Regions from separate parts of the Homo sapiens genome. Here all the other regions are linked to region 1. The links come from fine-mapping of genetic effects on gene expression. A gene starts in region 1. Each other region holds a variant in brackets. All regions are shown on one strand. Distances are between the middles of the regions. Region 1 holds the start of SLC16A10 (solute carrier family 16 member 10). Region 2 overlaps SLC16A10 (solute carrier family 16 member 10). Region 3 overlaps SLC16A10 (solute carrier family 16 member 10).

Region 1 (4,246 bases):
CTTTGTCTCAGAATTTATTACAGTCTTGCCCATTCCTCATATGCATACTAAAGACCTAAGAAATATTCACTCTAAAAATAATAGAAAATCAAGGTTAAAAAAAAAGACTATTAATCATATAAAGTTACCCCAAATGATGGGGAGGGAGGTTGATTTAGTAATGGAAATCACTTAGCCCTTGAAGTCAGTTGATATGTGTTTTATTGCCATTCTACTACCCACCAAGACACTTTCACTGAGCTACAGTTTTCTCACCCAAATGGGGTTGACCGCGCTCACCTTGCAGGATAAAGTGAAAGAATTTATGTTAAAGTGTCATGCAGAAGGTCTTAGATTTGTTTTTTGCCTAACCAGCCAAAAAGTCATAATAATGCTCTACAGGGAGAAAACGCTGAATCTGCACCTTTTGTATCTAATTTACTATATGGTTAAAAAAAAATGTCAAAAAACACAACAGGAAGAGGGAAGAAGCAACCCTTCACCTTCCTCATCCTAGTCCCTAATCCGGCTGCCTCCCGTGTTTTCTACATTTAACCCAGAGGGCAAAAAAAGGCGGGGGGACGGGAACGCACGGAACCGTGACTCTTGCAGGGCCCCCTTTGGAACTCCAGTGACCTTCGTACAAATCTCTTTCATTCCTCCAAACTCCACCCCCCGCCCCGCCAACATACGCACACCCCTCTGCGGCCCAGGGAGGCAGGTGAAGAACTACATAACTGGCATAGTCACGAAAGAGACCACAAAAATGACAGGGCGATGACTGGGGTTGAAGGTTCTGGGGTTCTGTTTGTTTTCAAACAATAAAAGGAAGGGCTCCTGTGGACTGTTAGCGTCTGCTCTGCTGAGGGGAAAGGAGGACGATCTCGGCAAGTAAGTTCTGCGACCTGCTTGCAAACACACAGCTCTGCAGCTGGATTCCATATAAAGACGGGCACCCCGAGGCCCCAGAAGCGGCAGGCTCTGTCTGCAACTCGAAAGACCCCCCTGCTCGCACCCTCTGGCACAGGGACCCACCGACATGCACACTCGGAGGCAGACACAGCCCACACGCGGGATGCGCTCGGGGGCCCCACGCGGGTCGCCCAGGCTGGCCTCGGCGGGCGCCGCGCCTCACCTGTCTTAAAGACCATCTTGTCATCGTCTTTGGAGCCGAAGGTTTCCAGCATGGACACGAAGAGCACCCCGCAAGCGTTCTGGATGCCGAACACCGACCCGTTGCACCACATGGCCGCCAGCATCACCAGCCAGCCCCAGCCGCCCTCGGGGGGTTCGGGGGGCTCATGGGGCTCCGCGGTCGCCGGCCCCGCCAGCTCCACCTCCACCTTCTCGACAGCCGCCTCGGGGCTGTCCGAGGGTCCCGGGCCGGGCGGCGGAGCGGCCCCCGTGGGCGCGGGGCCGAGCGGCTGCGCCTCGCTCGTGCCCCGCGCGGAGTCCGGCTCCTCCTGGGAGAGCACCATGGCCCGAGGCGGGCCCCTCAGGCGCCGGAGAAGCGCGAGGGACGCGAGTTACCAGCGGGCTCCCGGAGGAGCTGCGGGGCTCCTGGCGGGCTAACGAGGCCGAGGCGAGGGCGGCGGAGCCCCTGGCGGGCGGGCGGGCTGGCAGCGCGCAGGCGGCCAGCGCGCAGGCGGCCGCGAGGACAGCTGGCGCGCGCGAACACCTCGGGGATCGACACTGAAGCCTCTAGGTCACAGCCCCGCACCCCCGACTGAGCCCACTGCCAGCCGCCGGTTCTTAAAAGCACCCCCCGCCCCGCCGGCTGGGGGCGTGGCCGGGAGCGGGACGTGCCCCCACAGCCTCCAGATGATTGGGCCTCGGAGAGCGGAGGCGGGGCGCCCCGCGGCGCGCGGCCCCAGGTGCCCGCGGCAGACGCTGTCTGCGCGCGCGTCTGCGACGGGGCCTCCTCCTGCTCAGAGAGGGGCACAGATGTGTGGGTCACCCCGCCTCAAAGCATGAGCAGAAGGGGCGCGTCTCCTAGGTGCGGGCGCGGTGGGCCTTCAGGAGAGCCACACTGGATCGTTAGCCTCAACTCACCGACACAGCGTCACAGTCACACTAACATTGTCTCGATTGTGTTTGTTTTATGTTTTGGCATTCACCTCTCAGTACTAATTATAATATGTAAGATTCGTTATGCCACCTGGCTTCTTAAATAAGTCATCTGAAGGATCAGAGCCCTTATTTTATTACTTCAGTTCCATTCTCTTGCATTCGTATACAATTTCCTTATGAATATTTGGCACACCAAAGATGCTTATTTTCAGTCCTCACTGGACTGCAATTCCGAAGTCTTCAACCAACAAACATTTTTAACAGACAGCTAGAAAGCATTACTTTTCAACTACATCAGAGTCGTTTTCACTTTAAACAAAAACTAAAACCTGTATTCAACTCCTCTGTCTCCCTGAAGCATGGAGTGCCATCCTATGTAAAAGAAAAGAAGAGTAACCTGCTATGCAATATTGAGGATGCTTCTTAATTTCTGTTATTCGTATTCTTCACTTCAATCAAAGTCAAAATATGCTAGTTACTTGATGTGCCCACCACTGTGATAGAGTACACAGATGAGTGCGATTGATCTCGTTTCTGCCTCTTATCAGTTGATAAACTGGTAGGAAAAAAGAGTCCTGGGAGAGACTAGGAGGCTCAGATGATGTGTTATAATACATGTACAAAAGAGAGAGATGAGATAGTCCCTTAAATTCTCTCCAAACACTGTAGAAGAGCCTCTACAGCAAACAGCCTTTGGCCGAAGCCCTGATTCATACATACGACTTCAGTGGGTCAAGACAGGAAAAGAGCATTCCAGGTAGAGAAAATAGCATAAACTAAGGAAAGCAAGCCGTGCTTGGTTGTGGAATGGGGAACATAGCTCAAGTGTAATCTGCCTTAGAAATGAGGGTAAAATAGTAAACAAAGGAATAGGCACATAAGTGCACAAAAATGTATGTATGAAGATGATACCCCAGTATTGTTGGAAATAAGGAAAATTTGGAAGTATAATGTACATTGGTAGAAGACTGATTAGATACTTACTTTAAAACCTCTAAAAGTTCTGAAGGTCATCTGTATTTATTGACTTTGAAAGTTGTCCACAACATATTATTGGGCAAAGAAAGCACATCGATTATATATTTGCATGCACACAAACAAACACATATGTAAGAATTATCCACGAGTCAGTACTGATGTAAGTAAATGATTAAATAAATAATGAGGAGAGAATAGACAAATCTCTCCTGCAGGAAATGTAAATACTTTATGAACATACTCCCTCCCTCATGGAGGTGAAGTACAATGGTTTACTCTTTAAGTGTGGGTATGCGTAGTAACTTTCTTCCAAAGAGTATAGGATGGAAAGGGGGAGTGGGGGGAAGAAATAACTTTAGGGTGCAAAAAATGGCACACAGTACCTCAACTAGATGATAATGTATCCCCGATATGATGTGATGAAAATGGTACTTTACCTCTGTGGTCTTCCTGCCAAAACCCATAATCCCTGGCTAACCATCAGAAAAACATTAGACAAATCCCAATCAAGGACAGTCTACAAAATACCCATTAAGTACTTTCATTACTGTAAAAGTCATCAAAAACAAGGAAAGTCTGAGAAACTGTCACAGTAAAAAAGAGTCTAAGAGGGCTGGGTGTCGTGGCTCATGCTGGTAATCCCAGCACTTTGGGAGGCCGAGGCGGGCGGATCACTTGAGGTCAGGAGTTCGAGACCAGCCTGGCCAATATGGCGAAACCCCATCTCTACCAAAAATACAAAAATTAGCCAGGCATAGTGGCGTGGGCCTGTAATCCCAGATACTCAGGTGGCTGAGGCAGGAGAATCGCTTGAACCCAGAAGGCAGAGGTTGCAGTGAGCTGAGATCGCGCCACTGTACCCCAGCCTGGGTGACAGTGAGATTCCAACTCAAAAAAAAAAAAAAAAGCCTAAGAGACATGATAACTAAATGTAATGTGATATCCTGGATGGATACTGGAACAGAAAAAGGACATTAGATTAAAAGTAAAGAAATATGAACAAAATGTCGGCTTTAGTTAATAATAATGTATCAACATTGGGTCATTAATTGTAACAAATGAGGCAAGGTGTGGTGGCTCAAGCCTGTAATCCCAGCACTTTGGGAGGCTCAGGTGGGAGGATGGCTTGAGGCCAGGAATTCGAGATCAGCCTGAGCAACATTGCTGAGACCAGCAACCAGGCTGGTCTCGAACTCCTGGCCTCAAGCAACATAAGTAA
Region 2 (4,246 bases), 140 kb before region 1:
ATAATCCCACACTTTGGGAGGCCAACGTTGGCAGATCACCTGAGGTCAGGAGATCGAGACCAGCCTGGCCAACATGGTGAAACCCCCCCTCTCTACTAAAAATACAGAAATTAGCCGGGTGTGTTGGTGGGTGCCTGTAATCTCAGCTTCTCGGGAAGCTGAGGCAGGAGTATCACTTCAACCCGAGAGGCAGAGGTTGCAGTGAGCCAAGATCGCGCCATTGCACTCCAGCCTGGGTGATAAAAGTGAAACTCCATCTCAGAAAAAACAAAAAAAACCCAAAATTTTCCTCAGGAGAATGAATTTTATCCTGCTTAAGATCAGTAACAATTGGTCATATCTATTCTCTCCTCAGTTCCCTCAAAGGTCTTCTAATGGCCTACACATTCTGACATGTAAATACTTTTTGGATTAAATGACATATCACAAATGCCAAGTTCTTGAGTTTAATGTATTAAATCTCATTAGTACTATTAAACATAAATAATGATTTGCTTTGTAGTTAAGGCTCATCAAATCATAAACATCTTCTGATGGCAGAGTCAGTTTTTATCCAAGCAAGCAATCCACAGTAATGGGACTGCTTTTTTTTTTTACAGCCTGGTTCTTGACTATCCCCTAAAATTGTCAGTCAGTAGAAGCTCACTGAGTATCATCTGAATTTAGTAAGTGTAATCAATGTAAGAAAAATGGCAATGTAAGTCAAGTACAAAAAAAGTAAGCGTCAAATAGAAGTGGTTTTTAGACTATCTAAAGCTTTTGGATCATTTCTATCCCTGTTCCCTGCTCCGGGGAAATAACAGTACCCAAACGCATGTAGAATACAGATATGCAATGTAAAAAGCACACAGCTTATTTCTTTTATTCAACATAAACTATTCCTTTCGTTTCAATAATTTCCCCTCCCCCACCCTCCAGAGAATTCCACAAACATAACCACAAAGCCTTATAGGAATTTGCTAAAAAGTTTTTATTGCATTTACTAAGAGTATCACATTTTTCCACAGTAAAATAATCTTATCCTCCAAGCAATTGTAAAGATCTTTTCATTAAAAAGATTTTGGTTATCTATATTAAATTGCACATTATTAAAAAAATTGTAAATTATAGTCTTCAAAAAGAAGCATACATTTTTTAAAAAGTACTAAAATACTGCATACTGGTCAAATCCAGCATGAGCATTCAGCATAGTGATCTACATTTGAACAACTATTGTGCCAAAAATGGCCCCAGGGTAGGTTGGGAGAGAAGCAGAGCTGCACTGCGGTGTATAGCATACACTTGGAATAATTTGGCTTTGGTGTCTAAGATAAAGTGTGTTTTTCTAACTCAAAATATACAAAATAATTAAAAAATTAATTTTCAAATAAACATTAAAATAAGTCCACATGAACAATGTCATATTATACTAGGAGATACTTAAAATATCCACACTCTCTTTCAGTAATAACTACAGGGTTCAATTTGTTGTAGCTATAACTTTAAGGCTAAAATAAACTGGTGGAAGAACAAAAGCAAAATGCAACTTTTATCAAGCATTGTGCAATGCCTCTACAATCTTACACATCTCAAACCACATTAAGTTACATCAGAAGTTATTATTAGAGTGATGTTTAATCTCACCCTAATGTAACTTCTGATTAGCAAGCTTCCATTCTCTCTGCCAAATATAACTCATGTTAACGTAGAAAAGTGTTATCATTAGTTACCAGAGCAAATCCAGTGTACTGGATTGTGAATGCATAGTCTTTCTAATTAGGAAAATGAGAGTGTGTATTGTCTTCTTAATTTACATTTATAAAATCCTCATAAAATACAGTTAAGTCAGGGTCTTTTAAAAGAGAAGAATTCAACTGAAACCTGTCATTCTCTAGCCGGGCATGGTGGCTCATGCCTGTAATTCCAGCACTTGGGGAGGCTGAGGCAGGTGGATCACTTAAGGCCAGTCTGGCCAACATGGTGAAACT[C/A]CATCTCTACCAAAAATACAAAAATTAGCCGGTGTGGTAGTGGGCACCTGTAGTCCCAGCTACTCAGAAGACTGAGGCACGAGAATCACTTGAGCCCGGGAGGCGGAGGTTGCAGTGAGCTGAGATCGCGCCACTATATGGAGCCTGGCAATAGAGCAAGACTCCATCTCAAAAAAAAAAAAAAAAAAGAAACAAAGAAAGAAAAAGAAACCTGTCATTCTCAATTCATCTGAATCCTACCTACAGAACATTAAAGAGACCCGTATGTCTCGAACTCCTGGCCTCAAGCAATCCGCCTGCCTTGGCCTCCCAAAGTGCTGGGATTACAGGTGTGAGCCACGGCGCCTGGCCAAGGAGACCCATATGTTATTTTACTTAGGTGTTACACAATCAGACCAACGATGGTGCTGAGAGCCCTTGATAAATCATAGACCTGAGATTTGCTGACAGTGACCCAGCCGCAGTACTTATTGTTTATGTTAAATCTGAAAGACAAACAATGATACTTTCAGTGATAAATTTCAAATAATTATAAAAATATAACTGTGCAAATAACTCATTATCCATGTTTTAAGATTGATGACTCTCAAAACTCTGATTTTAGCCTGAAAGTTGCGAAATAGTTTCAAATGTCCAAATGTCTACATAAGCCAGCTCAATAGGAAGCTATTATATATAACTTTTTCACATTGCCTCAAAGTTACAGAATATATTTAAATCCCTCACTTTGTGCTAGAAACATTGACAAGGGACTTTTTCTTTAAAATTATTACCTTGGGAGGTTGTGTTCATTAGAACATTCTCATTTGGTGATCATTTTCTTGTGAGTTTCGTAATTTAAAGTCTTATATGTTAACAAAAATTGCATACCTCTAACTAGATACTGGAACTCAATAATCACTGTATAGGTGAGCTTTTTTCCTCAGTCATGTATATAACATGCAACATGCATAACGTTGCTGGCTGTATACATTTTCTATTGTGTTGTATATTAATATTTTTAAAAGAAAAATAATTTTGAAAGGAACATGAAGTATAGCACCAATCTTGATCTAATAATCTTTGGTAGAAAAAAAAGAGGCACCAACTATACAGTCTGTTCATAGTCCAGGGTCAAAATGCAGCACTATTTTTTTTTTTTTTTTTTTTGAGACAGAGTTTTGCTCTTGTTGCCCAGGCTGGAGTGCTATGGTGCAATCTTGGCTCACTGCAACCTCCACCTCCTGGGTTCAAGCAATTCTCCTGCCTCAGCCTCCCGAGTAGCTGGGATTACAGCATGGAGCCACCACGCCCGGCTAATTTTGTATTTTTGGTAGAGATGGGGTTTCTCCATGTTGGTCAGGCTGGTCTCCAACATCTGACCTCAGGTGATTCGCCTGTCTCGGCCTCCCAAAGTGCTGGGATTACAGGCATGAGTCACCGTGCCCGGCCCAGCACTATTAATAACAAACCCTCCATTCCTGAAATAACATTTCAATATAGACTGAATTATGAAAGATACTTTGACTCATTAGGGAAGATCACAGTAGAAAGGTTTTGTGTTTACACATTTAAAATATTTAACAAACTGACTCTTCTAATGACGGATACTGAAAAATATCTAGTAAAGAATAAAAGTCATACATCACAGGCTCCAAAATAGTATTACCAATCTAATTTGAGTTCTAAGTGTTATTTTATATTGGTAGTTCCTATCGCATACATGTTTAGGGACATTGAACTCCAAAATACTCTTTTTATAGCACTCATATTGAAAGGCAAAGCAACTTCTTTGGGTAGACTGGGTTAACTCCTACACTATTGCCACACTCAAGAACAGCATTTTAAAAAACTCCAGTGAGTCAAAAATTCATTGTCCCAGTCCTTGTTCTACTAGGAAGGAGTGTCTCTTACAGGAGTTTAATGTGTAAGTTGTCAGGTTTGGGCACAGCTGTACAATCTGTCATCACTGATCATCTACCCTCTTGCCAATGAAAACAAAACTTTTTCATAATCAAGCTTCCAGTGTAACTTGAAAAGCCACTGGCGAAGCATTCTAAGTGTTCATTAGAATCTGAGTGTGTCTAATTTAGAATCTAAGTGTATCTAGATTCTGAATTTCTTCAGGTTTTTCTTTGTCAGATCCACAGGCCATATTAGTTGTTATTCCTTTTTTGTTACTTTTACATCCGTTTATCAGAACAAAGCACTTAAGAAATTTTACTGATATTTTGACCCCACTAACAATTTGCACCCCCCTTGCTTTTTAATCCCAGAATCACCATTAGCTCCCTTCTGAT
Region 3 (4,246 bases), 72 kb before region 1:
ACCTTTGAATATTGTCTTCACTTTAACTTTTATTGCATACTCACAAACCAATCTGTACACACTCCCCATTCTGAGTCCATAAAAAGCCCCAGACCCAGACACAGAGAGAGAGAGAGAAAAACCACCTGACTGTGGGGGTGAGGGAGCACCCCGTGTCCCCTTAATGCTGAGAGTTGTTCCATAACTCAGTAAAATTCTTCTCCACCCATCCTTACACTTCAAATTGTCAGCATATCCTCCTTCTTTTTAGATGCATGACAAGAGCTCGGGAACCGCTGAACGTCAGTAGAAGCTATAGCACAGGTGGACCAAGTGAGCGGGGTGCCTTGGCCCATGGCCGAGTGAGTCCCTGGTTGGCAAAGTAGCTGAGCAAAATCCTGTGTCACCAGCACTTTGGGAGGCTGAGTTGGGCAGATCACCTGAGGTTAGGAATTGAAGACCAGCCTTCCCAACATGGTGAAACCCTGTCTCTACTTAAAAAAATACAAAAATTAGCTGAGCATGGTGGCACATGCCTGTAATACCAGCTATTCAGGAGGCTGAAGCACAAGAATCGCTTGAACCCAGGAGGTGGAGGTTGCAGTGAGCTGAGACTGCACTACTGCACTCCAGCCTGGGCAACAGAGTGAGACTCTGTCTCAAACAAAAGAAGAAAATACCGGAGAAAATCTTTGTGATCTTGGTTTAGGCAAAGATTTCTTAGATATAACATGAAAAACCTAAATGCCCATACAAGAAATCAGTACAAGAAAATGTTGATAAACTAAACTTCATCAAAACTAAGAACTTCTCTTTGAAAGACACTGCTAAGAGAATAAAAAGACAAGCCACAAACTGAGAGAGAAGATTTGCAAATTACATATCTAGTAAGAACTTGTATATAAATTACATACAAAATTCTCAGAACTCAATAAAAACCAAGCAACTCAATTTTAAAAATGGGCAAAAAATTTGAACTTTACAAAAAAGATATATAAATGGAAAATATGCCTATGACACCCAATATCATTAGTCATCAGGGAACTGTCAATTAAAACAATGAAAAACCACACACATCACAGGATATCTAAAAATGACTAATCATACCAAGTGTTGGTGAGGATGTAGAGCAACAAGAACTTTCACATACTGCTACTGGGAATATAAAATAGTACAAACACTTTGGAAAGCAGTTCAGGAATTTCTTAAAAAGTTAAACATAAACCTACCATATGACCCAGCTATTCCTCCATTCCTAGGGGGTTCCCAGCCCCTGAGCCTAAGAGAAACCAAAGCATATGCCTATACAAAAACTTATATACAAATGTTTATAGCTGCTTTATTTCTAATAGTCAAAAAAACAGAAAGAACCCAAATGTCTATAAATAAGTGATTAGATAAACAAATTATGGTATATCTATGTAATGGAATACACAGCAATAAATAAGAGTGAACTACTGATAAATACAACAACATGTACATGCACCACATTCTAGTAATTCCACTCCCAGGTATGTACTCCAGAGAAATTTTGCACATGTGCACAAGGAGAAATGAGTAAGGATGTTCACAGAAGCATCTGTAATAGTAAAAATCTGGAAATAACCTAAATTGCCCATCAGCGGTAAAATAAATGAAAAAATGTTGGTATTAACATACAGTGGAATATAGATTCACACATTTGTAGTCATAGCATAAAACATGATGGGAATAATTAAAGCAAATGTGGGATAGTGATTACCTGTGGGAAAGTGTGCATGAAGGGGATTAGGAATGGAGAAGTGTACACGGGACCACAGCTGGGCCTGTAATGTTTACATCTTTTTTTTTTTTTTTTTTTTTTTTTTTTTGAGTCAGGGTCTTGCTTTGCCACCTAGACTGGAGTGTAGTGGCAGGATCACAGCTCACTATAGCCTCTGGTCAATTGACCCTCCCACCTCAGGCTCCCGAGTAGCTAGAACTACAGGTGCAGGCCACCACACCTGGCTAATTTTTGTAGAGACAGGGTTTTGCCTTATAGCTCAGGCTGGTCTCTAACTCCTGGATTCACGTGATCTGTCCTCCTTGGCCTCCTAAAGTGTTGACATTACAGGCATGAGCCACTGTGACCAGCCTACATCTTTTCAAAACTGAGAATGTTAGGATCTGAGTAAAGAGTAGTGGATACGCAGAAAATACATTTGTTATGTCATTCTCTAGATTTTTGTTTGTTTAAAATATCGAGTAAATACAAAAAAATACTAAAGTTAATTTTCAGATCTTCGAAAGGTTATTTACAGCAGGGGTCCCCAGCCCCCGAGCCTGTTAGGAACCAGGCCACACAGCAGGAGGTGAGTGGTAGGTGAGCGAGCATTACCACCTGAGCTCCACCTCCTGTCGGATCAGCACAGCATTAGATTCTCATAGGAGCACAAACCCTATTGTGAACTGTGCATGCAGGGGATCTAGGTTGCACATTCCTTGTAAGAATCTAATGCCTGATGATCTGAGATAGAACAGTTTTATCCTGAAATCATTCCCCCTCCAATTTGTCAAAAAATTGTCCTCCA[T/A]GAAACCAGTCCCTAGTGCCAGAAAGTCTGGGGACTGACGATCTACAGGAGGTAAAATCACTTTACCAGAAAAAAGCTAAAAATAGGGAAAATGTGCACTGTAATTGTCATGGCAGAAAAGTAATAAAAATAAATAAATATTAATAATAGGGAAATAATTTCAAACTCTTTTCATTATAAAGTTCACTTTAAAAATGACAGACTACATTTTGCAAAAATAATCTTAAAACCAAACATCCCATTCCTCTGAAATTAAAACTTCTCTTCACATTATATTATTAATAGCTCTTTTAAAACATTAAATAAAAATACGATAGAATAGCTCTCTGTTATGCCCTCTCATTTCTGCATGCTGATAGCATTTCATGATGCTTTCAAATAAGAAAGTCATCTTTTCTGGCTATAAGTCAACATTCGCAACTAGGATCACAGTTCTTTTTCTTTTTTTCTTTTTTTTTTTTTTAGTCGGATATAGCATTGTAAGAAGGATCATAGTACTGATACTCTGAAATATTTACCTACATAAACTATTTGGAATTCTTCTGCATGGGAGATTTGTCTAGTCTCCCACATTTATGTATTTATTCAATCACTTGTTTATATCATTATGGACTCATAGATATTTATTTTATACTTTGATTTAAATTCAAATACTTCTCTGTGGCATAGATCTGCCTTAAAACCACAAGTGGTCTGAAGTTATACTCTGTGGTTTCACTGATACTATTTAGCTAACTTGTATCTTCAATTCTTGGAAACCTCATTCTCAGATGAAAACACCAAGTTTGGCCAGGCACGGTGGCTCATGCCTGTAATCCCAGCACTTCGGGAGGCCAAGGTAGGCGGATCACGAGGTCAGGAGTTAGAGACCAGTCTGGCCAACATAATGAAACCCATCTCTACTAAAAATACAAAAAATTAGCTGGGCGTAGTGGCAGGTGCCTGTAGTCCCAGCTACTCAGGAGGCTGAGGCAGGAGAATCGCTTGAACCCGGGAAGTGGAGGTAGCAGTGAGCCAAGATCATGCCATTGCACTCCAGTCCAGGTGACAGTACAAGACTCCATCTCAAAAACAACAACAACAACCAAGTTTTATCTCAATAGTACGATCAAAATGTGAAACTTTCCTACCTTTTAAAAAATAAACTTTTGTCTGGGCGCGGTGGCTCACGCCTGTAATCTCAGCACTTTGGGAGGCCGAGGCAGGTGGATCACCTGAGGTCAGGAGTTCAAGACCAGCTTGGCCAACATGGTGAAACCCCATCTCTACTAAAAATATAAAAATTAGCTGGGTGTGGTGGCGCGTGCCTGTAATCCCAGCTACTTAGGAGGCTGAGGCAGGAGAATCGCTTGAGACCAGGAGGTGGAGGTTGCAGTGAGCCGAGATTTCACCACTGCACTACAGCCTGGGCAACAGAACAAGACTCCGTCTCAAAATAAAATAAAATAAAATACACTTTCATTTTAGAATAGTTTCAGATTTACATAACAATTGTGAACAGTACAGGGAGTGCCCATATACCTCACATCCAGTTTCCTCTATTATTAACATCTTACGATAGTATGTTACATTTGTCACAATTAATGAACTACTATTGATACATTATTAGTAACAAACATCTATATTTTACTCAGATTTCCTCAGTTTTAACTAATATCCTTTTTCTATTCCAAGATCCCATACAAGATACCACATTATATTTAGTCGTCATATCTCCT

What was found. PIP is the estimated chance that this variant, and not a neighbour inherited with it, causes the effect. A credible set is the group of variants that fine-mapping cannot tell apart.
Region 2: its variant is the best candidate, but not a certain one, in a credible set for the expression of SLC16A10 in whole blood (TOPMed, PIP 0.51).
Region 3: its variant is the best candidate, but not a certain one, in a credible set for the expression of SLC16A10 in whole blood (TOPMed, PIP 0.52).

Annotation. Positions count from the first base shown.
Region 1 is chr6:111,084,964-111,089,209 of GRCh38, reverse strand. It overlaps SLC16A10 (solute carrier family 16 member 10), which reads right to left and starts at 1,707. Exons shown (of 6, transcript NM_018593.5): 1 at 1,115-1,707. The coding sequence starts at 1,457. RefSeq lists silencers at 1,137-1,316, 1,347-2,026 and an enhancer at 824-1,324.
Region 2 is chr6:111,227,900-111,232,145 of GRCh38, reverse strand. SLC16A10 (solute carrier family 16 member 10) reads right to left here. Exons shown (of 6, transcript NM_018593.5): 6 at 952-4,246. It overlaps SLC60A2-DT (SLC60A2 divergent transcript), which reads left to right. Exons shown (of 3, transcript XR_001743807.2): 3 at 4,223-4,246. Among named protein-coding and RNA genes, the nearest start is that of SLC60A2-DT, 29 kb to the left of the region's middle. The variant C/A (reference allele first, on the strand shown) is at 1,968.
Region 3 is chr6:111,156,651-111,160,896 of GRCh38, reverse strand. The region is part of intron 1 of SLC16A10 (solute carrier family 16 member 10); the gene reads right to left. Among named protein-coding and RNA genes, the nearest start is that of SNORD166, 45 kb to the right of the region's middle. The variant T/A (reference allele first, on the strand shown) is at 2,529.